4 linked regions of the Homo sapiens genome follow. The protein of the gene in region 1 purifies or fractionates together with the protein of each later gene. This does not show direct contact. Each region holds a gene or a part of one and is shown on either strand. Other genes may lie near its edges. The genes, in order: TMEM184B, CLASRP, REN and CCDC9.

The links.
Region 2: the proteins of TMEM184B (region 1) and CLASRP purify together in Homo sapiens (affinity purification with mass spectrometry; 2 studies listed by BioGRID and IntAct, with this or other methods). This does not show direct contact.
Region 3: the proteins of TMEM184B (region 1) and REN purify together in Homo sapiens (affinity purification with mass spectrometry; 2 studies listed by BioGRID and IntAct, with this or other methods). This does not show direct contact.
Region 4: the proteins of TMEM184B (region 1) and CCDC9 purify together in Homo sapiens (affinity purification with mass spectrometry; 2 studies listed by BioGRID and IntAct, with this or other methods). This does not show direct contact.

The regions. Positions count from the first base shown.
Region 1 is NC_000022.11:38,270,004-38,277,431, forward strand, and holds the start of TMEM184B (transmembrane protein 184B), read right to left. Parts: upstream 3,008-7,428; 5' UTR 2,881-3,007; exon of another isoform or gene 2,566-2,880; coding exon of another isoform or gene 2,525-2,565; exon of another isoform or gene 2,496-2,524; intron 1-2,495. UniProt on the Homo sapiens protein: May activate the MAP kinase signaling pathway.
Region 2 is NC_000019.10:45,035,081-45,042,053, reverse strand, and holds the start of CLASRP (CLK4-associating serine/arginine rich protein), read right to left. Parts: upstream 3,010-6,973; 5' UTR 2,946-3,009; intron 1,871-2,945; 5' UTR 1,842-1,870; coding exon 1,743-1,841; intron 1-1,742. Other genes in the region: transcription factor RelB, read right to left, coding at 4,264-4,649. UniProt on the Homo sapiens protein: Probably functions as an alternative splicing regulator. May regulate the mRNA splicing of genes such as CLK1. May act by regulating members of the CLK kinase family.
Region 3 is NC_000001.11:204,156,322-204,163,343, reverse strand, and holds part of REN (renin preproprotein), read left to right. Parts: intron 1-1,180; coding exon 1,181-1,331; intron 1,332-1,928; coding exon 1,929-2,052; intron 2,053-2,665; coding exon 2,666-2,784; intron 2,785-3,748; coding exon 3,749-3,945; intron 3,946-5,974; coding exon 5,975-5,983; intron 5,984-6,547; coding exon 6,548-6,667; intron 6,668-7,022. UniProt on the Homo sapiens protein: Renin is a highly specific endopeptidase, whose only known function is to generate angiotensin I from angiotensinogen in the plasma, initiating a cascade of reactions that produce an elevation of blood pressure and increased sodium retention by the kidney.
Region 4 is NC_000019.10:47,252,619-47,259,539, reverse strand, and holds the start of CCDC9 (coiled-coil domain-containing protein 9), read right to left. Parts: upstream 3,016-6,921; 5' UTR 2,931-3,015; intron 2,044-2,930; exon of another isoform or gene 1,631-2,043; intron 1,211-1,630; 5' UTR 1,140-1,210; coding exon 1,137-1,139; intron 982-1,136; coding exon 877-981; exon of another isoform or gene 830-876; intron 1-829. UniProt on the Homo sapiens protein: Probable component of the exon junction complex (EJC), a multiprotein complex that associates immediately upstream of the exon-exon junction on mRNAs and serves as a positional landmark for the intron exon structure of genes and directs post-transcriptional processes in the cytoplasm such as mRNA export, nonsense-mediated mRNA decay (NMD) or translation.

The sequences.
Region 1 (7,428 bases):
CAGAAACTTTCAAGGCCTCCCTGTTGACATCAGGATCAAGTTCAAACTCCTTGGCGGGGCCTCCAAAGGTCTTCAGGACACAGACCCAACACAGTCACAGGCAGTTCAAGCCTCTGCGTCTGAGAGGTGAGGCAGCTCAGACCTCCACATCTGCCCGGAGTTCCCTCTACCTGGAACGCCCTCCTTCTCCTTCATAGGTGGAGCACCCCTCGTCCTTCAGGGCCAAGACGACTTCCAGCACCCCAGGGTTATGGGGGAGGAGCATGGGCTCTGAGGTCAGACCTACTGGTTCAAAACTCAGCTGTTCCACTCTCTGCTGCCTCCCCTACAAAATGCAGACAGTGACAGCCCCCACCACACTGGGTGGTAGGAAAATTAAATACAGTAATTCATGAAAGCGCTTTGAACTGTGCCTGGCACACAGTAAGTGCTCAATAAACGGACTGTTGTTCCTATTGTCCTCTGGGCCCCTTTAGGGCCCTCTGTTTCCACCACAAGTAGGGCACTGTCTTGCACATATTTGTTACACATTGGGCTCCCTCTGCCAACCACCTTTTAGAGGGCTGCCCCAGCACAGTGCAGGGCAGCATGGTCTTCGGTGAGTGCTTACTACCCGGGGCTGCAGGGCCTGGTGCAGACCCCACACAGAGCTCTCCCAGGGGCCCAGCTATTGGCCTTCCAGAACTCCCACACCAGATCCCCAGTCTAAAGGCCCAGAGCTGTGACTCGTTTTCAAAACAATAAAAAGCTGTACCCTGCCTTGCCGGGGCTGTTTCCACTCCAGGGAATTTACAGAGAGAAAATGAGCACAGCAGGGACTGGAAATAGCTCTGAGCCCTTCTCAGGGTGAGGGACTGGGCAGGCCAGCCAGAGACCAGGAGCAAAACCTCTAAGACAGAGAGGGAGCAAACAGCCTCCGGACAGAAGCCCCTGCTCACAGAACTCGGCCAATAGGAAAGAACTAGGACAAGTGGCTCATTCACCCTTCTGCCTCGAAGCTCTTCTTTCTACTTGGTTGGAGAAATTCAGAAGGGGCTCTTTGAATAACCCACCACCACCGTGGGTGCAACAAATAAGACATCCAGAATCCCAACGACTGCACAAATGCTTTGGGGGAATTCACAGCGCCTTCTCCACCCACATTAGCTATTGGAGCCTCGTATCCAGATTGGGGTCACTAAATCAGTGTCCATCTTCCCAGCACTGGGAGCCCCTAGAAGGCAGGCACCAGGTCCCATTGATCATCAGACCGCTATGCCCCAGCATAGTGCCTGGCACATAGTAGATGCTCAGTAAGTTGCAAGACAAGATCTGGCAGCAAGAGAGAGGTCCTGGTTAAAGGATGATTCCATCCAGGCTTGCCACGTATCGTGGAGAAGAACGTCATGAATTCCCTCTGGGCCTCAGTTTACCGCATCTGCAAATAGGGACAACTGTTCCTTACTCACACAGCTGCTGTGCAAATTACACAGGAAAATATATGTGGAAAGCAGAAAAGCCTCAGATGAACGTCAGTCATCCTTCAGGCTTCAGCTCAACCGTCTCCTTATGAGGGAGTCTTTCCTGCGGCCACGATCCCCCTCCCCGGGAACTGAACCTGCCTCTGTACTCCTTCTACTCCTTTGTTTGGTATTTTTCACATCATCGTGATCACCTGTTTCCAAATCTGATTCCCCCATGCTTGAGAGCTCCTTGATGGCTTGGGCATCAAATGTTTCTGTCCAGGTGGGCACACATACCTGGCTGCTGGGGCTCTCCCACCCCAGCGTCCCAGGTCCCAACTCTGATACGCACAGCACCCTAGGCAAGGTTCAGAGGTGCAGAGCCTAGGGGTTCTACCAAGGAAGCTAAATAGGTAGATGGAAAGGGACACTGTAGGCATAACCTGTCAACGAAGTCACACCTCTGAGACCTGCGCTGCCTCTGCAGGTGCAGGTGAGCTTGTTTGCCTGGCTGACTCTGCAGCGCAGGGCCTCCAGGGCACAGATTGCTGCTTCTTTCCTTACAAAAGCACCAGCAGTCAGATAAATAATACATGGCCTTCACCTCACCACAGGTATCAGGCATGCAAATACCTGCTTTGCCCCAAAATGCCCTGGAAAGGAGGGAGGAGTAAAACGTCTGGCCTTATACAACACCTCCAGAGGGGATATGTATTGGGAATCCATGCCCAACCCCCAGCATAACTGCCTTGCCTTGGCCTGGAGCCACCCAGCACTGGAGGTAAGTGGATCCAAGCGAGGTACCAAGGGTGTGCCCAGGAGGAAATGTACAATTCACGGGAAGGATACAGACACCCAAAACCAGTCTCCACGGTCCCTTTGGGGGCAAACATCTTTCGAGCCCCAGGTCCCAGTCGATCCCCTTCCAAACCTGCGGACCTGTGTGGCGGGCGTGTACACCCTCCACTCACGACGCAGCCCCGAAAGCCCCCCGCCGACCACCCTCCCAGGTCACTGCCACCCGCACAGGGCACGGACGCCTCCCCCACTCACTCGGCCGTGCCAGTCGCCAGCACACCCACCCGGGAGCACACAATCCCTCTTGCAAAGCGCCTTGGTCCATCCGCCTCCCTCTCCCGGGGCCGCCCCCCGGACAGGTCCGATTACACTCCAGGAGCTGCCCCCGCCACGTTGGCGTGGAAAGGGAGCGGGCACACCCACGGGCGACCTCGCGGGGCGGAGAGGAGGCACGGGTGGGGAGACGGATGCCCCCTCCCTCCGCGGCCGCACCGGCCTCCGTAGTGCCCTCCCCGCCCGGGAGCCGGCGGCCGAAGCCGGGCGTCCCTCGCGCGGGCCTCTCCGAAACAAGCAGCCCCCCGCGCTCGGGAGTCGCAGCTCCCCCTTGGGGCTCCCGGGCGAGGCCGGCCAGGCGGGATACCTCAGGAGCCCATGGCGGTGGCGGCGTCTGCGGACGATGCGCGGCAGCCGGACTCTGCGGGCGGGGCGGGCGGCGCCGCAGCCCCGGAGTCTCCGCCGCCGCCGGCGCGTCCCGGGCCCAGTGGAGTGCAGCCGCGGCGCGCATGCGCTCTGGGCTCGCCGCCGGGGAGGGCGGGGCGGCGGACGCGGCTGAGATCACTGCCTGGGCCTTAAAGGGGCCGCGCCCCGAACCCCAGCCCGCCGCCCCGAACCCCAGCCCGCCGCCCCGCGGGTTGGGGCGCGACCCGGGTTCTCTTGCCACTCACAAAACCAGCTACGACCGGCCCCCAACCGCGAGAGCTTTCTGGGCTGCGATCTCTGCCCCTGACCCTCGCTGGTGCTTCACTTCTTTTAACCCTAATTTCCTCCATTTGAGCCTGTTTTGAAGATGAAACGAAATACAATGGCTATTTGTTGAGTGAAGGATGCGTGTGGAATTGTGGAATGAACGTGGACCGAGTGTTGTGTGCAATTAGGCCAGATGAAATGGCAAAGCACTGAAAGAGGCCTTTTTTTCCCACTCCGCTTAGCAGCGATTCTTTCTTGCCCCGTCTGGCTCTAGGCTGCCGAACTAGCAAAAGTCTTCAGATAGGGTTCAAGCCGCCTAGTCCATTTCTGTTTGCCGGTCCAGACATCACCTAGGTTAACTGAACAAGATAAAATGCAATTAAGTTCTGGCATTGATGTGCTCAAGATCCCCAAATGTATTTATGTCTCCAGACTCCTCGCCTGAACTGTCTACCCAACACCTCTTCCTTGGAGCTCCAGCAGGCATCTCAAAGTCAGCGTGTCTGAGCTGAGCCAACCCCACTTCCACACACAAAAACCTGCTCCCTCTCAGCTTTGCCTCCATCAGCTGTTGACAATTCCATCCTTCCAGTCCCCAGGCCAGAACTCGGAGTCAGCTGTGAATGAATGCCCCCCTTCTGCCCGCTACCCAATAAGGCAGGCAGGAGATCCTGTTGGCTCTACCTGCAAAATAGATCTAGACTCAGATGTCTGCCACTCCTCCTCCAGTGCTACCACCCTGGTCCAGTATTTGCACAGGATTATTGCAGAGTTCTGCTAACCCCTCTCCCTTGTTCCAGCCTTGCCCTCTGATCCATTCTATCAATTCAGGGGTGAGGGAGATCCTTTTTTTTTTTTCTCTTTTTTCTTTTTGAGACAAAGTCTCGCTCTTTGTCTCAAAGTTGCCCAGGCTGGAGTGCAGTGGCGCGATCTCGGCTCACTGCAAGCTCCGCCTCCCGGGTTCACGCCATTCTCCTGCCTCAGCCTCCCGAGTAGCTGGGACTACAGGCGCCCGCCACCATGCCCAGCTAATTTTTTGTATTTTTAGTAGAGACGGGGTTTCACCGCGTTAGCCAGGATGGTCTTGATCTCCTGACCTTGTGATCCGCCTGCCTCGGCCTCCCAAAGTGCTGGGATTACAGGCGTGAGCCACCACGCCCAGCCAAGATTCTTTTAAAATCTGCCGGGCACGGTGGCTCACGCCTGTAATCCCAGCACTTTGTGAGGTCGGGTGGCTCATTTAAGGCCAGGAGTTACAGACCAGCCTGGCCAATATGGTGAAACCTTGTCTCTGCTAAAAATACAAAAATTAGCTGGGTGTGGTGGTACATGCCTGTAGTCCCAGCTACTCTGGAGGCATGAGAATTGCTTGAACCCGGGAGGCGGAGGTTGGGTTGTGGTGAGCCAAGATCGTGCCAATGCACACCAACCTGGGTGACAAAATGAGAATCTGTCTCAAAAAATAAAATAAAATCGAAGTCAAAACATGGTACTTTTTTGCTCAAAACCCTCCATTGGCTCACTGTTTCGCTCTAAGTAAAAGCCTTACAAGTCCTTACAAACACTTGATCTGACATTCTACTCTCCTGGGGATTCCTGATCTCATTCATCTCTTACCCTTTCCCTCCACACTGATCCCTTGCTGTTCCTAGAACAAGCTGAGCACACTCAGCCCCGAGCCCCCTGCACTAGCTGTTCCCTCTGCTGCGATCGCTGTTTCCCCAGATACCTGAATGGCTCCTCCATCACCTTCTTCAAGGGTTTGCTCGAATGTCCTCCACTTAGTGAGGCCTGCTGTGAGCACCCCTAGTAAAACTACCAGACCCCTCACATGCACTCTGTATTTCCCTTTACCGTGCCCTACTTTCCCTGTCACTTCATTTCTTTCTTTCTTTCTTTTTTTTTTTGAAGCGGAGTCTCGCTCTGTCACCCAGGCTGGAGTGCAATGGTGCTATCTCGGCTCACTGCAAGCTCCGCCTCCCGGGTTCATGCCATTCTCCTGCCTCAGCCTCAGAGTAGCTGGGACTACAGGCGCCCACCACCATGCCTGGCTAATTTTTTGTATTTTTAGTAGAGACGGGGTTTCACCGCGTTAGCCAGGATGGTCTCGATCTCCTGACTTCGTGATCCGCCTGCCTCAGCCTCCCAAAGTGCTGGGATTACAGGCGTGAGCCACCCTGTCACTTCATTTCTATCATATTATATAGTTTGCCTGTTTCCCTGTGTGTCTTCTTCTAGTAGAACACAAAATTTTTCGGTTTTGTTTTTTTGTTTTTGAGACAGTCTCTGTCACCCAGGCTGGAGTGCAGTGGCACAATCTCAGGTCACTGCAACATCCGCCACTCAGGCTCAAGTGATCCTCCCACCTCAGCCTCCTGGTTAGCTGGGATTATAGGCATGTGCCACCATACCAGGCTAATTTTTGTATTTTTTTTTTTTTTTTTTTTTTTTTGTAGAGATGGGGTTTCGCTATGTTGCCAGGGCTGGCCTCAAACTCCTGGGCTCAAAGCAATTGCCCGTCTAGACCACTCAAAGTGCTGAGATTACGGGTGTGAGCCACTGTGTGCCTGGCCAATAAATTCTGAAGAGAAAGATTTTCATCCTTTTTGGCTTTTTTGTTGTTGTTGTTGTTTGAGATGGAGTCTCACTCTGTCACCCAAGCTGGAATGCAGTGGTGCAATTTTGGCTCACTGCAGCCTCAACCTCCCAGGTTCAAGCGATACTCTTGCCTGTGCCTCCCAAGTATCCTTTTTGTTTTCTGATGTAATCCCAGTACTTAGTACAGGGTCTGGCATAGAGAACATGCCCCCGCAAAAGTAGGTATAACATGACCAGAGATCTGGTAATAGCAAAATCCTATAGAACGATTCCTCCCCAGCCCCAGGTAGGACATGCCTGGGTCTGTCCTAACAAGAGTAAGGCTTATCAATTGCATTGTAACTTGTTTATGACTTCCCAGCTCTCCCTCCCTACACACTAACCCCTTCAGGAGGAAGTCTTTGTCCCAATTACCCACCATATCTGCAATGTGTAGTACAAGACACTTACAGACCAGACACAACCTGACTTACACTTCCCCTCCAGGGCTTTCAGTTCAGGGTCTTGGTTTCTGCTTAGGGGCACTCTTGGGTCTCAACTTACAGAGGCCCCGGGCTGGCAGGGGACAGAGGCAGGTGGTGGGTATTTTTAGGCTTGGTTGCCCGGAAGGGGCTCAAAGACAGAAAGTCACCTGGTCTGAGTGATATGGCAGGTCAGCAGGTGGTATTGGGGGCCCTAGTTGGTGCTCCCTGTGGGAGGAAAAAAGCCCTCTCAAGACCTTTACTCAGGTTTTCCAAAATGAAGATAAACACCTACCTTGCTATCTTCCCTCTCACCCCTCCTCCATGCAACTACCCATCCTTTCTTTCTTGGGTTTTGCTCTCTCACCCAGGCTGGGGTGCAATGGTTTGATCATAGTTCATTGCAGCCTCAAACTCCTGGGCTCAAGCAATCCTCCACCTCTGCCTCCCAAGTAGCTAGGACTACATGGGCATACCATCACGCTCAGCTAATTTTCTATTTATTTATTTATTTATTGACAGAGTCTTGCTCTGTTGCCCAGGCTGGAGTGCAGTGGCGCGATCTCGACTCCCTGCAACCTCCCAGGTTCAAGCGATTCTCCTGCCTCAGCCGCCCGAGTAGATGGGATTATAGGCACGCGCCACTACGACCAGCTAATTTTTTTTTGTATTTTTTTAATGGAGACAGAGTTTCACCATGTTGCCCAGGGTGTTCTCAAACTCCTGAGCTCCGGCAATCCGCCCACCTTGGCCTCCCAAAGTGCTAGGATTACAGGCGTGAGCCACTGCACCTGGCCTAATTTTCAATGTTTAATGGTTTTATAGAGACTGGGTCTTGAACTCCTGGCCTCAAGCAATCTTCCTGCCTCTGCCTTCCAAAGTGTTGGGATTACAGATGTGATCAGCATGCCTGGCCTATTCTTTCTAACAAGGCTCAAAGATTCCACCTAAATGTGTCCGCTTTCCCCTCCACTGCCCTGGTTCAGTCTGACTTAACTTCTGGACAATTATAATGGTTTCCCAGGCCCCCAGCCTCACCTTTCCCCCTGCCCACAGGCTAATGAAGAAAGAATGCTTTTCTCAATGACCAGCTCCACCCCTTTGAACTCAACTCAGCAAACAGCTACTCCTATTCTCCCTTCAAGGACCAAATCAGATATCAC
Region 2 (6,973 bases), on another chromosome or scaffold:
GTGTATCTTAAGTGTGTTAAATTCCACAAAGGGGAAGGAAAGGGAGCTATGATTATGGCATTTTTAGAGGACACCTGACTGAGCTTGGGAAACAAGACTTCTCTGAGGACTGAGATCTGACAGATAAGCAGTAGTTAACCAGGTATGGGAAGAGCTCATACAAAGGTCCTGTGGCTGGGGAGCGCTTGGGTCAGTGGAGGAATAGCAAGGAGGCCAAAATGACTTGTGCAAAGGAACAAGGCAGAGTGTGGGGTGGTGTGAGTCTGGAGGAAGGGCAAAGGCCAGGCCATGCAGGACCCTAAAGGCCACAGTGAGGAGCCTGGGCTTTCTCTCAAGGGCACTTAGGAGGCATAGAGGTGCTCTGAGCAACGAAGGGACAGGGTCAGTTTTGTGCTTTAGAAAGGCCTCTTGGACTCTTCTAGGAAGGACAGACTGGAGGAGCCAGGACTGGAGGCCAGCAGACCAGGGAGGAGGCTGGGGCAGTAATACAGGAATAACTGGGAAAGGTCTATATAAATGTCATCTGACAGGAACACTGAACCTAGAAAACAGGTGCCATTTCAAGCTGGGATCCCAAGGATACACAGGAGTTAAATAGGTGAGGGGGGGTAATATAGGCCAAAGCCCTGTGGTGGCAGAAATAGAAGGCCAGTGGAGCTGTCCGAGTATGAAGCTGAGTGGTCAGACCACAAGGGTCTTTTAGGCCAGGGATAGTTTGGTCTTCCCCGCAAAAACAACTGAAGCATCAGACAGGAGAGGGAAGTGGTCAGGTTTCACTTAATATTCACTCCTTTTTTTTTGAGACAGTCTTTTTTTTTTTTTTTTTGAGACAGAGTCTCGCTGTCGCCCAGGCTGGAGTGCAATGGTGCTATCTCAGCTCACTGCAGGCTCCGCTCTGCCCCCCTCCCCGGTTCACACCATTCTCCTGCCTCAGCCTCCCGAGTAGCTGGGACTACAGGCACCCGCCACCTCACCTGGCTAATTTTTTGTATTTTAATAGAGATGGGGTTTCACCGTGTTAGCCAGGACGGTCTCGATCTCTTGACCTTGTGATCTGTCCACCTCGGCCTCCCAAAGTGCTGGGATTACAGGCGTTGAGTCTTGCTCTGTCACCCAGGCTGGAGTTCAGTGGCACAATCTCCATGCACTACAGCCTCCTCCTCCCGGGCTCAAGCAATTCTCGTGCGTCAGCCTCCCAAGTAGCTGGGACTACATGCACACACCACTAAGCCTGGCTAATTTTTGTATCTTTAGTAGAGATGGGGTTTCACCCTTTTGGCCAGGCTGGTCTCGAACTCGTGACCTCAGGTGATCCACTTGGGATTACAGGCGTGAGCCACTGTGCCAGGCCAACTTAATACTCACTCCTATTGTGTGCCAAGCCAAATCTCAAGAGTGGCTGAGCTCTTCTGGGAATGGGGAACACAGCAATAAGCGAAACAGACATTCTGGAGGTGGCCAGTCTAACGTCAGGACTGCTCTGAGGGTTACAGAGACTTCCCTTTTTCTTGCTAACACCGGATCGGCACTGGGAGGCCACACCAAACGACACAGTATGCTACAACAAACAGAAGCCCTTGGGATCCCACCAATGATTATCCTCAAGAAAAGATTAATGAATATACTCCTGAGGAAATGAGCCTCTTGTCTTGACATACTTCCAAGCCCAGATTTTACCAGGATGACCAGCTGTGCCCCCCAACCCAGGGTCCCTCACCCCAGACAAAAGGCCAGTTACTCACGATCTTTTCATAATACTCCCGTCTCCGCTCCGCCCTCTTCTTGTAGTCGACCATCATGCCTCGAAGCTTCCGCTCATGCTTCCGAGCCTCGTGCCACATTGTGGTGAGGCCAAGCCTGGGGCCTCAACCTGAGGGATGAAGGGACCAGGAAAGTCAGATGGTCTGTGAAACCCGTATGGGCAGAATCAAAGTCATCTAACAAGTTGGTGGCAGAGTCGATCCCAAACAACACATCTCTTAGCTTCAGGGAGCAGAAGTGAAGCTGCAGAACAGTATGCCAGATGTTCAAGTCCATCCCTAACAACTTCGATCTAGAAGCTTGGGCATTCTGAAAAACCCTCAGGTGATTCTGAGGTGAGCATCACTGGGAAAGGGGTGTCCTAGATTCCACGCGCTGGAGTCGGGAATGAAAGGTTTTGAAACATCAGCAGTGTTTGAAGTAGGGTCAGAAGGCAAACCCTGAGCACTTAAGGCTGGAGCTCAAGAGAAAGAGAAGAACTGAAAAGGCTCCCACTAGGGGCCATGCGTGGGGTTGGGTATGAGTCTGGGTGGTAGAGGGATAAGGAGAATAAGGATGAAGGCAGGTGGAGGAAATCGGAGAAAGCTTTTAAGGGAACAGTGCAGTTGTATGAAGGTGGAGGTCGAGGACAGGTGAAGGGCGTGGCGGAAGATGAAGATGCTAGAGGGAGTGGGAACACGGGGAGGGAGTGTTGCAAGGAGACCAGAGTGAAGCTGAGGTCTAAAGATGGGATCTAGATGGCGGGGTGGGGAGAGCATCCAAAGAAAAAGAGCGTAGAGCCTGAGAGAGGCGGAGCTGGCTGACAGGAGGGCGTGGGCTGAGCTTGGGGGCAGGGCTTGCGGGAAAGGGCGGAGACCGAAGGTTTGGACGGGGCTTGTGGATCGCGTCGCGGCCTGAGGATTTGGGCTGGGTTTTTTTTTTGTTGTTTTTTTTTTTGACAAGGGGGCGGGGCCTGTGATAAGCTGCTGGGCCGAAGGCCGAGTTCGACGCGGCAACTTCTGGCCCACAGCCGGGGCACGGGCTCGGCCTGAGGCCCGTCAGGCCTAATGGGGTGAGGGACGAGCGATCCTCGGGGCCGGGACGCAGCAGAAGCCCACAGCAGCATGGGGAGAGCCTGAGGAAAGGGAGAAGCTGGGCTGAGGCCTGCCCGAAAACCGGGAGGTCGAGCCGCAGCCTGCACTCACCGGCTGGTCGCCGCCTCCCACCGCTGCGCTCGCGCGCGGCCCGCACCGGAAGCGGAAATGAAAGGCCGCGCTAGGGGGAGGGGGCGGAGCATGGTGGAGGGCCGCGCAGCGCACTTCCGCCGACGAGAGAGGCGGGTCCTAGAGTCGAGAGGGGCGGGATCCCGAGGAAGAAGTGGGAGAGCGGAGAAGGGAAGAGCTTGGATGCTTTATCTTTTTATCTTTTTTATTTTATTTATTTATTTAATTTTATTTTTTTGAGACGGAGTCTCTCTTTGTCTCCCAGGCTAGAAGGCAGTGGCGCGATCTAGGCTCACTGCAACCTTTGCCTCCTGGGTTTCAGCTATTCTCCCACCTCAGCCTCCCGAGTAGCTGGGACTACAAGCGCGCGCCACCAAGCCCGGCTAATTTTTGTATTTTTAGTAGAGATGGGGTTTCACCATTTTGGTTAGGCTGGTCTCAAACTCCTGACCTCAGGTGATCCACCTGCCTCGGCCTCCCAAAGTGCTGGGATTACAGCCATGAGCCACCATGCCCGGTCTCATTTTTTATTTTCATTTTCATTTTTTATTTTTTTGAGACACAGCCTCGCGCTGTCGCCCAAGCTGGAGTGCAGTGGTGCGGTCTTGGCTCACTGCAACGTCCACCTCCTGGGCTCAAGCGATCCTCCCACCTCAGCCTCTAGAGTAGCTGGGATTACAGGCGCGCAGCACCACGCCCGGCTAATTTTTGTATTTTTTGTAGAGACTAGGTTTCGTCATGTTGCCCAGGCTGGTCTCAAACTCGTGAGCTCAAGCGATCCTCCTGCTTTGGCCTCCCAAAGTGCTGGGATGACAGGCCTGAGCCCCCAGCCTGGAGGCTTTCTTTGCTACTAAGGGACTAGGGCGTTTCCCAAGCCCAGAACAGACGAAACCCCGGAGGCTCAAAAACTCATCTTTATTGGGAAGACTCTGAACAACCAACCTACCCCCCACCTTCAAGTCTGGGGAGGGAGGGCCAGGAATCTGCCCCCTCCTCCCATATGTACAATCTTTTCCGAATCCTACTGGAGAAGGTGCCCCCACATGTGGGGACAGAGGCAGCTGTAACAAGCTAGTGCACGGGAGCCATGTCCCTTTTCCTCTCCGGACTCAGTTTCCTCATCTGTAAAATGGGCTCAAGGGGAAACCCGTGCAACGGAGCTTCTCGCCAAGGCTGAATATGTCCACTTCAGAAGCATGAGGAAGGGCCAAGGGGATGGGGGTGCTAGACATCCTGGTTGGGATTGCACGGCTCCTCCACCTCCCTCCCCACCCAGTGCCCCTCCTCTGGCATCGCGGGGCTACGTGGCTTCAGGCCCCGGGGATAGGAGGCCGCCCCCAAAGGCCGCCTCGCGGTAATGATTGGGGAACATGTTGCTGCCCACAAGGCTGGCGGTGCCTCCATCCCCGGGGCCCGGGGCCTGGTACGAGTCCAGTGTCAGTGGTTCAGGGCCGGGGGTCTCCCCAACCACGGCCCCGGCACCTCCGCTGCACACAACAGCGCTAGCGTGTGGCGGTGCCGGGGGCAGCAGGTCCAGCATGGTGAAGAGTGTGGGGGCCGTAGGGTCGTAGGCAAAGCCATCGTCCAGGAGGTCAGGCCCGCCAGGGGGCTCCAGGCCGGGCAGGGACACGGTGCCAGAGAAGAAGTCAGGGTCTGGCAGCAGGGCTGACGGCGGGAGGAACGGGCCTACGGGGATGAAGACAAGAGAAGTGTAGTGTGATTTAGGGCTAACTTCTGATCAGGCCCTAAATCAAATGCCCTACTCCCTGCAAAATGTGATATCAAGGTGGCCTTTTTTTTTTTTTTTCTGAGATGGAGTCTCATTCTGTCACCCTGGCTGGAGTGCAATGACGTGCTCTTGGCTCACTGCAACCTCTGCCTCCCCAGTTCAAGTTGATTCCCCTGCCTCAGTCTCCTGAGTAGCTGGAACTACAGGCCAGGCATGTGCCATGCCCAGCTAATTCTTATCTTTTTAGTAGAGACGGGGTTTCACCATGTTTGCCAGGCTGGTCTCGAACTCCTGACCTCAGGTGATCCACCTGCTTCGGCCTCCCAAAGTGCTGGGATTACAGGTGTGAGCCACCAAGCCTGGCCTTAGGTGCCCTCTTAATCCCAAGGAGAATCCGTGTGGGACTATCACCATTCTCAGATAATAAGTAAATTGAAGGCCAAGCGTGGTGGTTCACACCTGTAATCCCAGCACAACGTGACGAGACCCTGTCTCTACAAAAAAATTATTTAAAAGTTAGCTGGGTGTGGTGGTGCCCGCCTGTAGTCCCAGCTACCTGGCAGTCTGAGGCAGGAGGATTGCTTGAGCCCAGTTTGAGGCTGCAGCGAAGTATGATCACACCACTGCACTCCAGCCTGGGCAACAGAGCAAGACCTTATCTCTAAAAATAATTAATAATAAGTAAACTAAGGCACTGAGGGAAAGTAAATGGAAGGCTCACACAGCTGTTGTGGAACTGGGGTTGAAACCATGCTCCTACACAGCTGTGGAGAGTTTTCCCTGAGAGTGAGAAAGGAGAAGAGGTTCCAAAGCCCCCCAACATACAGAGACAACCCAAAAAGTGAAATCTCCAGACCATGGGAGACACAAGTTGGGAAGTCACCAGTCCCAAAATTGTCAGAAAAAATAAATGTCATTCTCAGGCATAATGGGGACTTAAGAAAAAATAACAATCAAATCAAAAAGTTTCATTATAAGAGGGATTCTCAGGCCAGGCATGGTGGCTCACGCCTGTAATCCCAGCACTTTGGCAGGCCGAGGCGGGCAGATTACCTGAGGTCAGAAGTTCAAGACCAGCCCGGCCAACATGGCGAAACCCCTTCTCTCCCAAAAATACAAAAATTAGCAGGGCATGGTGGTGGGCACCTGTAATCCCAGCTACTCAGGAGGCTGAGGCAGGAGAATCACTTGAACCTGGGAGGTGGACATTGCAGTGAGCTGAGATTGTGCCACTGCACTCCAGCCTAGGCAACAGGGCAAGACTATCTCAAAAAAAAAGAGGGACTCTCTTTTTGGAACAAGACAAACCTTAGAGACACAAGGGACTATTTTCTAGCCTTCCTTGCAGCCTGATGTGATCATGTGACTAAGGTCTGCTAACTGGAACGTGGGCGTAATGGCTGGAGCTACAACAGCCACCTTGCACCATGAGTTGGCGAACTGAAAATGGCAGAAGCCTCGGTCTCTCGATGATCATGCAGTCACCAGACCATCCCTGGAACACCTACCTATGGACTGTTTTTTGTTTCTTGTTTTTGAGACGGAGTCTTGCTCTGTTGACAGGCTGGAACACAGTGGCACCATCTTGGCTCACTGCAGCCTCCACCTTTTGGGTTCAAATGATTCTCCTGCCTCAGCCTCCCAAGTAGCTGGGACTACAGGCATGTGCCACCACATCCAGCTAATTTTTGTGTTTTTAGTAGAGATGGAGTTTCACCATGTTGGCCAGGATGGTCTCTCTCTCTTCACCTCGTGATCTACCTGCCTTGGCCTCCCAAAGTGCTGGGATTACAGGCGTAAGCCACAGTGCCAGGCCTGTTTTGTTGTTGTTGTTGTTGTTGTTTTGAGAAGGGTCTCATTCTGTTGCTCAGGCTAAAGTGCAGTGGTGCAATCTTGGCTCACTGCAACCTTCACCTCCTGGGTTCAAGTGATTTGTCTGCCTCAGCCTCCAAGTAGCTGGGACTACAGGTGTGCACCACCACACTCGGCTAATTTTTGTATTTTTAGTAGAAACAGGGTTTTACCACGTTGGCCAGGCTGGTCTCAAACTCCTGGACTGAAGCAGTCCACCTGCCTCAGCCTCCCAAAGTGCTGAGATTACAGGCATGAGCCACTTTCAGTCCCTACAGACTATGTATGTGAGACAAGAAATAACGTTCTATCCTGTTGAAGCCCCTGTTATTTTGGGTTTTGCTGTAAATGCAGTTAAATGTGATCATAGGTGGGATGCAGTGGCTCATGCCTGTAATCCCAGCACTTTGGGAGGCTGAGGCAAGCAGAT
Region 3 (7,022 bases), on another chromosome or scaffold:
TTACAATACCATGCTGATAGGCATAAAAGTTGCATTCATGTTCATGGGCAAAATGGGGGTAAGTAGAATGCATGGGACGCAAGAAGGATGTAGGAAGGAAAGGGTAGTGTGAGTATAGGAGGACTAGCCACTGAGAAGAAAGTAGAAGAAAGAGGGAATCTTTGTGTGTATGGGAAAGTCTATTGCAGAGTCAACTTGGGCTTCCATCCTGGGACCTTCCCGTGAACAGCTAGAGACATCTTCCTCTGGGCTTTGGCAGCCTTTATGTCGGGACCCAGGGGACCCTATATGGGAAATAGGGCCAGACACATGCTCTGAATCCCTGCTTCAACATTTCTGAGTCACCTTTGTCCCTGTGAGCCTTCATTTTTCTCATCTATAAAATGGATGACAGCTAGCTTGTTGGTGTGATTTCAGTAGCGGCTCAGTAGAGTCAGTTTCCTAGGTCTCTTTAATTCTGCCTCTCAAAGGTGATGGGAAAACATCTAGACAAGAAGCCAAGGGACCGGGACACATCTCTCCAAGGACGAGGTGCATGGCGCTCTGAAGATGCTGGCATCTCTCTAGGCCCAACCCAGCTCAGGGGGTCCACTCCACCACAGCCCTGGCTGGGTGCCTGTCCCCTGGTATCCTGGAGACCTTGCAGCTGCTGTGGGCATCTGCTGCCACCTAGCGGCCTCCCATGGCACTGTCTCCCCGCCAGCCCCTAGTTTTGACAGGGGCACTCCCTGGCATTAATCTCTTCAGAGGGAATGTCTGTGCCTGTTTCCTGTCTGTCCTCCCGCCAGGTGGAGTTCCTTAAAGGCAGTCATGATCATTATCTTTCTAGCTCCAGTGTCCAGCACAGTGAGGCACAAAGTAGTTGTTCAGCAGGTGATTACGGAATAAATGAATGAACGGACCAATAAACAAATAGCCTTGTCTAATCAAAATTAGGCAACAGAAGGAAGTCACTTCAGGGTTATTTAATCCCCGGGCAGCTGACTCCTCTAAATTGACTCTTGACAAGAAGTAACTCTTATAAATGCTCCAGAGGCCCTCAGCGACAGAGGTGATTTCCAGGTGGCTGGGCTAACGTTAAAGGTGGTTGTACTAAAAGCAGGGGTTTGGCCTCAGGGACTCCACCACTGTGGTGGAGGTACAGCACTTTTCTATTTTTGCTTCCTCCACCCTGGGCCAGGATCTTCCTCAAGAGAATGCCCTCAATCCGAGAAAGCCTGAAGGAACGAGGTGTGGACATGGCCAGGCTTGGTCCCGAGTGGAGCCAACCCATGAAGAGGCTGACACTTGGCAACACCACCTCCTCCGTGATCCTCACCAACTACATGGACGTGAGTGCTTGGCTCAGCCCCTCGCTCCCTCCCTGTCTCCTTTCCCTCATGGACCTAGGGCTTTCTTTGCTGCAAGACTCACCCTTTCCAAGCTGTGTTTGACGAAGGCGCTGAGTAGCACGTGAGCACCCTAGAAAATTCCCATTTTCCAGCTGGAAAGCCTGAGCACAGAAGACAGGAAGGCATCCAGGGGCCATTCAGGGGCAGGGTTAGGTTTGGAACTCAGCCCAGGCCTCAAGCCAGGTGTCACAGGTGGGTGGGAAGGGGTGTGTGACTCAGGTGGGGGTTTCTGTGACCTGGCCCAGCACAACCTGATGGCTTCCTGCCCCAGAGGATCCTCAAGAGTCAAGTTTGCTTCCTGCTTCATTCTCAATGTTTTGATTTTGCCCTCTTGTCTTACTGAGACTCCCACTTTCTGGGATGCCATGGGGAGATGCTAAGCCTCCTACCAGTTCCTGCAGGAAAATGGAAACCCCGAGAGGCTATAGGACCTCGCCTGGGCCAAGTCTCACACCGAGAGCCAAGAGTGAAGCCAGGCAAGACCCCAAGACCCAAGGTCCCCTGAGCCCCTCCAGCCCTCTCTTTTTACCCCCACAGACCCAGTACTATGGCGAGATTGGCATCGGCACCCCACCCCAGACCTTCAAAGTCGTCTTTGACACTGGTTCGTCCAATGTTTGGGTGCCCTCCTCCAAGTGCAGCCGTCTCTACACTGCCTGTGGTGAGACCTAAGACCCACAGTGCCTCTCCTCCATCCCCCTGCCCTACTGTGCATGAGCAATCCTGCCCAACACCCAGCTCCCATCCCTCTTGCCACCAAGGGAGTGGCTTCCTCTCTGCCTCTGTGCCCACTGACATGTAGGGGAGAGGGGAAGATGTCTCCCGTTTTTCTGATACAGCCACCAAGGTTAAAAACAAAAAAAGGTCCAAGAACCCCTGAGCACCCAGAAGGCCACTTCCCAGTCTTCCTGAGATTGAGACAGGACTGAATTCTCAAACCCATCCCAGGCACTCGGAACTCTTCCATCCCTAGTCTTAATCAACAACCTCTTACTAGGCACTTACTCTGTGCCTGGCATCTTCTCTGGTGTTATCAGTGTTAGTGATTACTTTAAATTCCTTCATTTAGGACAAAATTCTCGATGTATGGGCACATTAGGAGAGCCCAAGAAACCCAGTCCTTGATTGATGAAGCACATATTCCAAGCCCCCTGACCCTAGGGCCACTCATCCCTGCACCTAAGCTAACCAGCCATACCCACAATGCACCCTGCCTCTGAGTCCCCCTGTCTGGGCCACTCTTGGACAAACCTGAGCCTCTGTCCCCCTGCCAGTGTATCACAAGCTCTTCGATGCTTCGGATTCCTCCAGCTACAAGCACAATGGAACAGAACTCACCCTCCGCTATTCAACAGGGACAGTCAGTGGCTTTCTCAGCCAGGACATCATCACCGTAAGTTGGGCCGCCCTAGGTCATCTGCCCCGGACCCCTTCTGTCCCCAGGCCTCTCCTGACCCTCCAGGGCCCACACCTGCGGGGAGGTACACTGCAGCCCACTTGGAGCCTGGGGAGCTGAGGAACACCCTACTCTGCCACATCTGGCTGTTGCTGCAAAGCAGCAGTACCTATGGGGGAGCAAGCCTGGGCTACGGGCTCACCGTTGGGTGGTTTGTGGATGTTTTTGCATCTAACTTGCATGTAGGGCTTGTCCTGAGCCCCGTGGCTGCAGTCAAGTAACTCGTCCAAGTTCACCAGCTCTGACTGGGCTACACCCTAGACTGAAATCCAGGGTCAGAGTCAGGCTGAGTTTTAGGGTCAGGCATAGGTTTTAAGGTCACAGTTGAGGTTGACTCTGGGACTCAGGTCAAGGCCTGCTTTTCTTTTCCATGTGGCCCATGTCTGACCGTTTCCTCATCCTGGAGTTTCTCAGGCCCTGCTCCATCAGAGTTAGGGGAGGGGCACACGTGGCACCTGAGAGGAAATCAGGGTGATTCCTGCCTCCCTTCCTTTTTCTGTGAACTCAGATATAAAGGAGGGAGAAGGGCAAGCTTGTCTGTGCTAAAGAAACCCTTCGCCCATGATAAGGGTGGGGGCCAAGACCCAGTCCTGCCAGGCACGAAAGTCTGGCCACTGGGGAGGGGAGGAGCTCTTGGCAGCTTTTCTTTTGCTGCTTGGCAGGACCACCCTCTCAGCCTCTGCTCTCCGATCCCTGGTCAACTCTAGCTCTCTCTGGGCTCCGCAGCAGAGATGTGTATTGGCACAGAGTGTGTGCGTGCAGGGTTGAGGAAATACTCTTACCCCGATTTCTGTACCCTGGAGCATGTGTGCCCCTGGGATCCCTAGTGTGGAAGCCCAGACCAGACTCCAACCAAGGAGTGGGCAGTGGGCTTGGTCTCCTCTGGTCCTTCCTCCCACAGGTGGGTGGAATCACGGTGACACAGATGTTTGGAGAGGTCACGGAGATGCCCGCCTTACCCTTCATGCTGGCCGAGTTTGATGGGGTTGTGGGCATGGGCTTCATTGAACAGGCCATTGGCAGGGTCACCCCTATCTTCGACAACATCATCTCCCAAGGGGTGCTAAAAGAGGACGTCTTCTCTTTCTACTACAACAGGTGGGGACTGGGACTCCAAGGGCTGAGGTGGGGGGACAGGAGGGGAGAAGAGATGGGGAGTGGAAGGAGAGTCTGGGCCAGAATTGTAAAGTGTTTGTAATTAGGTGACAGCCAATCAATATCTAGAGCTGTACTAGCCAATATGGAAGGCACTATTGAAATTTAAATTAATTAAATACAGTTAAGCATCAATTAAGCATTCAACTGGTGGCTCTTAGTTGTACTAGCCACACGTCAAATGCCTGGCAGCCACGGTGGCTAGTAACTACAGTCTTATGACAGTGCAGATAGAGAATATTCCCAGCATGACAGGACATTCTAATAGACAGCGCCACTCTGGAGCAAGAGGAGATGCAAGGTGGGGGCGATGGTAAATAAGGGATTACTGTGACCTGTAGCCCTGCCTGTTAGGGCCATGGCTCCTCCCACACAGAGACAGCCAACTTCAGTCATCCATTAGATCCTTCATTCGTTTGTTTGCTCACTCATCAGTTCAGTAAATGCTATGTGCCAAGCACTGTGGTAGGCTCTGGGGGTGCAGCAGTGAACACAGTGAACAAGGCAGAATCTGTACTCCCCTACCCACATAGAGCTTACAGGCTAACAGGGAAGACAAGACATATTCCAACATAAAGAGTGTCACAGGCAGGCAGCAAGTGTGGTGCTGAAAACCATGGATGCTTTTCAATTCTAGGCTGAGCTTATATGCAGCTCAGCCAGCCTTGGGGAAGCTCTTGAGCAGGGTTGGGCTCTACTCCAAACTGCTGGGCTTAGAAAGATGGCATGAGTTGGAGACAAGAGAGCTGGAGGCAAAAGGGGCTGGGTGCAGTGGCTCATGCCTGTAATCCCAGCACTTTGGGAGGCCAAGGCGAGAGGATCGCATGAGCCCAGGAGTTAAGGCTTCAGTGAGCAGTGATTGTGCCACTGCACTCCAGCTAAGGCAACAGAGTGAGATCCAGTCTCAAAAAAAAAAAAAAAAAAAAAAAAGTCACAAGGGTAAGAACATGAGGCCAGTGGCAAAAAGAATAGAGGAGAGGATCAGAGTTCAGAGAAATCTCACAGTAAAATGGAGAGGAGTCTCCGGTTTGGTGATAGAAAGTGAGGCCTTGAGAAAAGGCCAATTGGCGGCTCTGCATTCAGGGGTGGTCTTTAGAAGAACTGTTTTAGAGGAAGTGGGGGCAAGGCCAGATGGCAAGAAGTTAAGAGGTGGACGACGTGGGTGTCAGGAAGTGGAGGTCATGAGATGTAGGCTGCCCTGGGACATTCAACAGGGAAGGGAATGGGGGGTGGCGTGGGGGGTGAGATCCAGAAGCAGAAGAGGAAGGGTGGGTGTTTTTAAATGCTAGAGGATGCTCGAGTGATGCCTGTAGGTGGAGGAAGAAGCCAATGGAAAGAAAGAGATTAAAAATGTGGAAAGAAGAGGAGCTAAATGGGGGCACTGGAGTTTGGAGGCCTTGAAAGAGATGAGGTTCCAGCAGACAGGAAGAAGCCAGGTTTTGCAGAGGAGAGGGCTGGCCTCTTCTTTTATCTTGGGATGGGAAGGAGGGAACATCCAGAGAGATACTGAAGTGTTGAGAGACAGGCAGGAGGGAATTTGTGCTAGCATATACACATACATTCCGAATTTATAAAAACACAAGTAGTTTGCAGTTGCACAAAATAACATATGCACACCTACACACCCATGCACACATGTGCATGTGTGAATTCTAGTATGAATTCTGGAAAAACACATCACACACACAGGCATGCCCTGGAGACTAGGCCTACAGTAGTCCCTGAGCCAAGTGCAGTGAGGAGGAAAGGAAGGTGAGGGGAATCAGCTCCAGACGGGGCACCAGGAGCCTGGCTCCAGTCCCCCACTTGTTCACTCATGGACTGGGTAACTTCAGGCAAGTGACTTCGCCTCTTGGTGACTCCATTGCCTGAAGGGCAAAGAGAGTACATAACACCCACCCTGCCAAACAGCAGGGCTGATGAGGCTGGCATGAAATGAAGCTTCCTTTCTGCTGTCTCTCTTTCTCTGCAGAGATTCCGAGTAAGGAGACAAAACCCCCACATGGCTGTGACCTTCCAGTACTCCCCGAGCACCTGACCTAGAATTACACACGCCACCGGCCCAAAACTCACATCAGCAAGCCCAGCCTCCGCTAGATGCCGAAGTTCTCTGTCTCTCCTTCCTGCTCTCTCCATGCCACCTGCCCACCCCATACCCAATAGCCTCCCCAGGGTCCCCTCCCATGCACCTGCTCAATCAGCAGCAACCCAAGAGTGAGGGGTGTCCATTTGTGTCTTGTTCACATCCACTCACTGTCCTTGTACCTGCTCCTTTTCTGTGACCTCTCTGGGGATGCTTTTTGGGGGAACAGCTGGACTACCCTGGAACAACCTCTGGTTGGTCTTGGGGAGGGGAAGAAAGGCAGAGAAGCAGTATGTTCTGCATGCTTCCCAACGACAGCTCCGAGCCTGGCTGTCTGTCCCACATTCCTCTGCTCTAGAGCCCTCTGTCCTCCCCTGCACCCTTGTGCAACCTTCCCCAATTGCCTGAGTTGCTGGGTCCTGGAGGTTATGGGTTTCCAAGAGCTTCTGATCTTTCCTTTAGGAATTCCCAATCGCTGGGAGGACAGATTGTGCTGGGAGGCAGCGACCCCCAGCATTACGAAGGGAATTTCCACTATATCAACCTCATCAAGACTGGTGTCTGGCAGATTCAAATGAAGGGGTCAGAAATCCTCAACCCTCCCCGGGCTCCAAAAAATGCTGCCGTCACTGGGGTTGGGGAGGGTGGGGAAGGACTGCATTACCATCCTGCCCTCTTTCCAAATGCAGCCACTTCTTAAGCACAGCCACCATTTGCTCTCTGCCTGCTCTGTCCAGGCTGGGGAACAGAGAAGGGAGGGGCCTGGGGAGAAGTGGTGGAGGGTGACAGTACCTTCCCTCCTCTACTCACTGCCTCAACAGGCCACCAGCGTGGCCTCCACCCACCCACCCACACTCAGGAAGGACATGCAGCCTGGAGGTGCCCCATCAGCCTTCTGTCTGTCTGTCTGTCTGTCTGTCTGACTGTGGCCTCCCCC
Region 4 (6,921 bases), on another chromosome or scaffold:
CTCCCCCTGCCCTGAACTGCCCATCAGTAACTGAGTCCCTCTCAACAGCCCTGCCCTGAGCCAGGTACCTCCTCTCCCACTAGGGTTCCAGCCCCAGCTTCCTCCTTGGTCTCTGGGCTCCAGTATCACCTCCTCGCACCCACCACCGCACAGCACCCAGAGGCGTCTTCCTAAAGAGCTGTTCTGACCGGTCCCACCCCTGCTCAAGGCTCTCCCTGGCTCCCCAGTGCCCTCAGGACAAAGTCCAAACTCATCCTGGTGGCATTCAGGGCCTAGCACAGCCTGGCCCCTGCTGACCTGCCCAGGTCAATTCTCTCCTAACCAACCCTCCAACTTGAAGCTCCAAGCTCTCTCTTGCTTCCAACATTTGCACAAACTGTTCTTTCTGCCTGAAACATGTTCCCCTCGCCTTTTCAACTGGCTATTGTCTACTCACCACTCAAGCCTCAGAGTCCACTCCTCCAGGAAGCCCTCCCTGATATCCCCAAGGCTGGGTCAAGAGCCTCCTCTGGACTCCCACAGACCCCTGAATTTCCTGATTCCAGACTTGTCTGCTCTGGGGCATCCCTGAGGACAGGGCTGTCTCCCTGACTAGACGGTGGACCCTGGAGGGGGCAGGCCTGGGTCTGTCTCAGTCACAGCTATATCCCCAGCACCACTCAGCACTGGGGCTGGTAAAGATCTTGGGGAATATTTGTGAACAAATGAATGAATGAATGAATAATGGAATGAAAGAAGGGATGTCAGGCTAAGGCCTTTGGCCTTTATCCTGACAGTGATGGGGAGCCATGAAAAGGTTTTAAGGAAGGGAGAGGTGAGAAAAACTCACTGCGGGGAAGAGAGGGGATGGGGTCTCCCAGGGCGGGGCTAGGGCACCTGGTAGCGCCGGATGAGGGCCTCATTCTTCCGCCGAAGAGCCTCGATCCTCTTGTCCAACTCAGCATCCTTCTCCTCCTTTGATTTCAAATCGAGTGTGGCTGCCTGAGACCGGGAGGCAGTTGAGGGATGGAAGGAAAAACCTCCATCCATACCAGGGACTTTCCCCCAGGGTCTGAGAGTCTGCCCCTATGGATCCCATCCTCCCAAGCCCCCTTCCCCAAAACTCAGATTCTAGAGACCCCATTTTTCAGCCTCACCATTTCGCTGGCTGCGTGGAGCCAAGGTCCCAGCAAACCTCCCCTGCAGAATCTAGACGCAGCACTGAGGGTTCCTGGGGACAGAGGGAAAAAAAGGACAAAGGCCAATGGCCCCCCAACCTACTTCACCCTCTAACATACTGCGGGATCCTCACAGCCATACACAAAAAACCCTGTACCCCAAGAGAATTGTAGCCCTCACTCTCCCTCCTTTCAACTGCCACCTCCATCTTCTCCATAGAAATTCAGACTCAGCCCTTTCATGATCTTTGTGGACTCACCCAGTTCCCATGTAAACGATCTAGTCAAACCCACCTTGGGGATGTTCTGGCCCCCACCCACTGCTTAAGTATCCAACACTGCTCTCCTCCAAAGGCTGATTCTAGGCCAGCCGCCACACCCTGTGGTATGAGTGTTAGCCCGGGTTCCCTATCTCAAGAGAGTTCCAACTACAACCCCTCCAACCAGCCTGCAAAAGAAAGTTCCAGACCCACCTCCCTGTGCTCATCCTGGTGCCTCTCATATCCAGGCGAATATTCTAGCTCCACCAGGTAAGGTTCAGAAACATTCCCAATCCCACGCTCAAAGAAAGTCCGAACCCCACTCTTATTGGCTGCCCAAGCTCTCAGAGAACATTCCAAGCCCGCGCCTTCCTCAGGGACGTCCTAGTCCCGTCTCCAGCGCCCTACGGAAGGTCGACAGCCTCCCGCCTCCCCCGAAAGGATTCTGTACACAGGCCCAGAACTCACTGGCGAGGCTTCCTGGAACTGGCGTTTTGCCCCACTGAATACTCCACCCGCCCCAACAAGGACAAAACTACCCAGGCCCGCCCCAGATTTTCTGTGCAAAGCTCCAGCCTCAATCCGGCTGGGAATGCCAGGGCCACGTCCCCGACATCCTGGAAACCGCTCTGGCCCCGCCCACGGCTCGGGAAAAAACTTTCTGGCCCCGCCTTTCCCGCCAGACTTCTGGCCCCGCCCCCACCCATGGGCCATTAATGTGGCCCCGCTCCCGACTTTCCCAGCCACGCTCTTTCCCCGCCTCCTGGCTCGCAGGCAACAGCCTACACCCGCCCCTACCATCTCTTATTATTATTCCAGCCCCGCCCCCGGCCTGCCCAGTCAACCCTCTGGCCCCGCCTCCGATTGGCCTGGCCAACCTCCTGGACACGCCCCCTGACTCCCTCCCACACCTCGTTGCGTCAGCATCTGGCCCCGCCCATGGCTTCCCCAGGGTTCTGGCTCAACTCCCCGCTTCCCCGCCTCCCGGCCAACGCTCTGGCCGCGCCCGTGGCTCAGACGAAACTTTCTGGCTCCACCCCCAGCATTCCCCGCCAGCACCCTGGCCCCGCCCCCTGGCTCCCCCACTACATTGTGGCCCCGCCCCCGCCATTGCGTCAGCCTCTGGGTCCGCCCCCAACGTCCCGGCCAAGAATCTGGACCCACTTCCAGTAAGGCAAAACTTTCTGGCCCCGCCCACAGAGCTTCCGCCCGGCGTCCGAGCCCCGCCACACAGCTGAACAAGCAACACTATGGCCCCGCCCACAGTCCAGCCACAACTTTTAGGTCCCGCCCACAGCCGCCGGCCCAGGCTCTGGCCACGCCCCGCCCCGACCCTGCCCACCCACCCAACGGCCCGCCCCGCCAGCGCCCCTCCAGCTTCCCATGTGGGCGTCCTGTCCCCGCCCCCCGCAGAGAACTCCGACCCCGCCCGGGCCTGTTCGCACTCCCCGCCACGTGGGGCTTCAGGCCCCGCCTTCTCTGGGCGCGCTCCCGGCCCCCTCCCCCAGGTCACCTGTCCCGGAGACCCCGCGGCGTCCGCGACTCCGGCTCCGTCGGCCTCTGCGACCGCAGCTCCCGGGCCAGGCGCGTCACTTCCTGCCTGCACCACGTGAGGAAGGGAAATAAAGAGGGTCACTTCCGGTCCTGTGGGACCGTTTCCGGGAGCCTTAAAGGGGCCGCGCCTCCGCGATGGATGCGGGAGCGGGGCCGACTGGCCCCCCGGGTGTTCCGCAAGCTCATCCAACTTCCTTCTGCCTGAATTACCAACTTCCAGGAAAAGGAGACACCGTCCTCACTCCCTGGCCTCTACCTCTTTCTTCAAGCTGTTTCCGCCTCCAGCCCCTCATTCCTGGTTTCTATCAGTAGATGCCAAGCACTGGGCACTGACGCCTGGAAGCCTGGCGTGGTTCGAGCCCCCTCGTGCCAATGAAACCTTAGAGTTCGCTTTAGAAGCTTCAGATGTTCTACCGGCCGTGGGCGGTGGCTCACACTTGTAATCCCAGCACCTTGGGAGGCCGAGGCGGGCGGATCACCTGAGGTCAGAAGTTCGAGATCAGTCTGGCCAACATTGTGAAATCCCGTCTCTACAAAAAAAATTAGCCGGTTGTGGTGGCGCGCGCCTGTAATCCCAGCAACTCGGGAGGCTGAAGCAGGAGAATCGCTTGAACCGGGGAGGCAGAGGTTGCAGTGAGCCGAGATCATGCCACCGCACTGCAGCCTAGACGACAGAGCAGACCCCTTCTCGAAAATAAAATAAAATGCTGGGCGCAGTGGCTCACGCTTGTAATCCCAGCACTTTGGGAGGCCGAGGAGGGCGGATCACTTGAGGCCAGGAATTCGAGACCATCCTTGCCAACATGGTGAAACCCCGTCTCTACTAAAAATACAAAAAAAATCAGCCCGGCGTGGTGGCGGGCGCCTGTAGTCCGAGCTACTCCGGAGACTGAGCCAGGAGAATGGCGTGAACCCCGGGGGCGGAGCTTGCAGTGAGCCGAGATCGCTCCACTGCACTCTAGCCTGGGCGACACAGGGAGACTCCGTCTCAAAAAATATACATATACAAAAATTAGCCAGGCATGGTGGCGGGCGCCTGTAATCCCAGCTACTTGGGAGGCTGAGGCAGGAGCATCGCTTGAACCCGGGAGGCAGAGGTTGCAGTAAGCCGAGATTGCACCACTGCACTGCAGCCTGGGCGACAGAACGAGAGACTCCGTCTCAAAATAAAATAGGCCGGGCGCCGTGGCTCACGCCTGTAATCCCAGCACTTTGGGAGTCCGAGGCGGGTGGATCACCCGAGGTCAGGAGTTTGAGACCAGCCTGACCAACGTGGTGAAACCCTGTCTCTACTAAAAAATACAAAAATTAGCCAGGCATGGTGGCGGGCACCTGTAACACCTGTAATCCCAGCTACAGGCTGAAGCAGGAGAATCGCTTAAACCCGGGAGGCAGAGGTTGCAGTGAGCTGAGATCGTGCCATTGCACTCCAGCCTGGGCGACAGAGCAAGACTACGTCTCAAAAAAATAAATAACTGGCCAGGCGCAGTGGCTCATGCCTGTAATCCCAGCACTTTGGGAGGCCGAGGCAGGTGGATCACAAGGTCAGGAGTTCGAGACCAGCCTGGCTAACATGGTGAAACCCCGTCTTTACTAAAAATACAAAATTTAGCCAAGCATGGTGGCAGATGCCTGTAATCCCAGCTACTTGGGAGGCTGAGATAGAGAATTGCTTGAACCCGGGAGGCAGAGGTTGCAGTGAGGCAAGATCGTGCCACTGCACTCCAGCCTGGGCGACAAAGTGAGACTCCGTATCGAAAATAAATAAGTAAATGAAATCATAAAATATAAAATAAGGCCGGGCGCGGTGGCTCACGCCTGTAATCCCAGCACTTTGGGAGGCCGAGGCGGGCGGATCACGAGGTCAGGAGATCGAGACCATCCCGGCTAAAACGGTGAAACCCCGTCTCTACTAAAAATACAAAAAATTAGCCGGGCGTAGTGGCGGGCGCCTGTAGTCCCAGCTACTTGGGAGGCTGAGGCAGGAGAATGGCGTGAACCCGGGAGGCGGAGCTTGCAGTGAGCCGAGATCACGCCACTGCACTCCAGCCTGGGCGACAGAGCGAGACTCCGTCTCAAAAAAAAAAAAAAAAAAAAAGTATATATATATATATATATATATATATATATATATATATATATATATAAAATAAACGTTCAACCGATAGAATCAGTCGTTCATTCTCCCAAATCAGCATTGACTGCCAGGCTGCGTGCTGGGAGGAAAAGTTGGTGGGGGAACTGAGATGATGAACAAAGCTGACCCCATCCTTGTCCTCCTAAGGGAAGACACAAGTAAATGGGAAATAGCAGCACCTGTGGGAGATGCCTGGCAAGAGGGGCAGGAGAGGCCGGAGGGTGAGAGGCTGCCTGTGCAGGCCAAGGACACAACCTATGCAAAGGCCCTGTGGTGAATGAGCTTGGTGCATTCCCAAAACTAGAAGATACTCAAAGCAACAGCAGCTGAATAGCTGCAGAGTCCAGGAGGTTACAGCATTAACCAAAACTTAGACATAATAAAGCTAGTGTGACAAGCCGACCAGGCGCTGTGGCTCACGCCTGTAACCCCTGCTACTGGGGAGGCTGAGGCAGGAGAATCACTTGAACCTGGGAAATGGAGGTTGCAGTGAGCCAAGATTGAGCCACTGCACTCCAGCCTGGGCAACAAGAGTGAAACTCTGTCTCAGAATAAATAAATAAATAATAAAGGTATTGTGACAAATGATGATGAATGCTACAGAATACCCTCAGTTAAGGTGAATGACAGTTATAAGTGGACAGACCAGATTGCCTGTAGTGCCAGTCATTTTATTTTGTGATTTAAGACATAGAAAGTGGAAGTACCTGGTAATTCCTTACCATTTCTAAGGCTACTGTTCACAGCCTTTCAGAGATACCAATGAAACTTAATCCTCTTATAATTGTCCAAATAGCAATCTATGCATGTAACGAAATTCACTTGAGGCCAGTGCGGTGACTCATGCCTGTAATCCCAGAACTTTGGGAGGCCAAGGTGGGCAGATCACTTCAGCTCGGGAATTTGAAACCAGTCTGGGCAATAGAGTGAGACCTAGTCTCCACAAAAAAAATTAAAAATTAGGCCAAATACAGTGGCTCATGCCTGTAATTCCAACACTTTGGGAGGCAGAGGTGGGAGGATCATTTAAGGCCAGGAGCTCACTCAAGGTCAGCCTGGCCAACATAGTGGGACCCCCACCTCTCTCTCTCTCCATATATGTGTGTGTATGTGTTTGTATAAATATATATATATATTTTGTTTGTTTGTTTGTTTTTCTAAGACAGGTTTTGCTCTTTTTGCCCAGGCTGGAGTGCGATGGCGCAATCTCGCCTCACTGCAACCTCCGCCTCCCAGGTTGAAGCAATTCGCTGCCTCAGCCTCCTGAGTAGCTGGGATTACAGGCATCTGCCACCATGTCTGGCTACTTTTTTTTGTATTTTTAGTAGAGACAGGGTTTCACCGTTTTGACCAGGCTGGTCTTGAACTCCTGACCTCGTGATCCACCTGCCTCGGCCTTCCAAAGTGCTGGGATTACAGGCGTGAGCTACCGCGCCCTGCCGACTGTTTTCAACACATGAACTTCGACGGACACATTCAAACTATGGCAACTGTTCTGACAGAAAGAGGCTGCCCAGAGCACCCTGGGGAGAGCTGACTTGATGGAGCCTGAGTGGTGTGTGTGTCACCGCTGCTGCCCTCTCCAGCCACATCACTCCCTTTTGTGCATCCTCAAACTCCGTGTTCTTATCCAGTGGTTCTCAATGGAGGTAATTTTGCCCCCTAAAGGACATTTCTCAATGACTAGGGACATTTCTGGTTGTCACAAGAGAGGGTCCTCTTGACATCTAGTGGACAGAGGCCAGGGCTGCTCCTGAACACCTTCCAATGCCCAGGCCAGTCCCCAAGATAAAGACTCAGCCTCGGCTGGGCG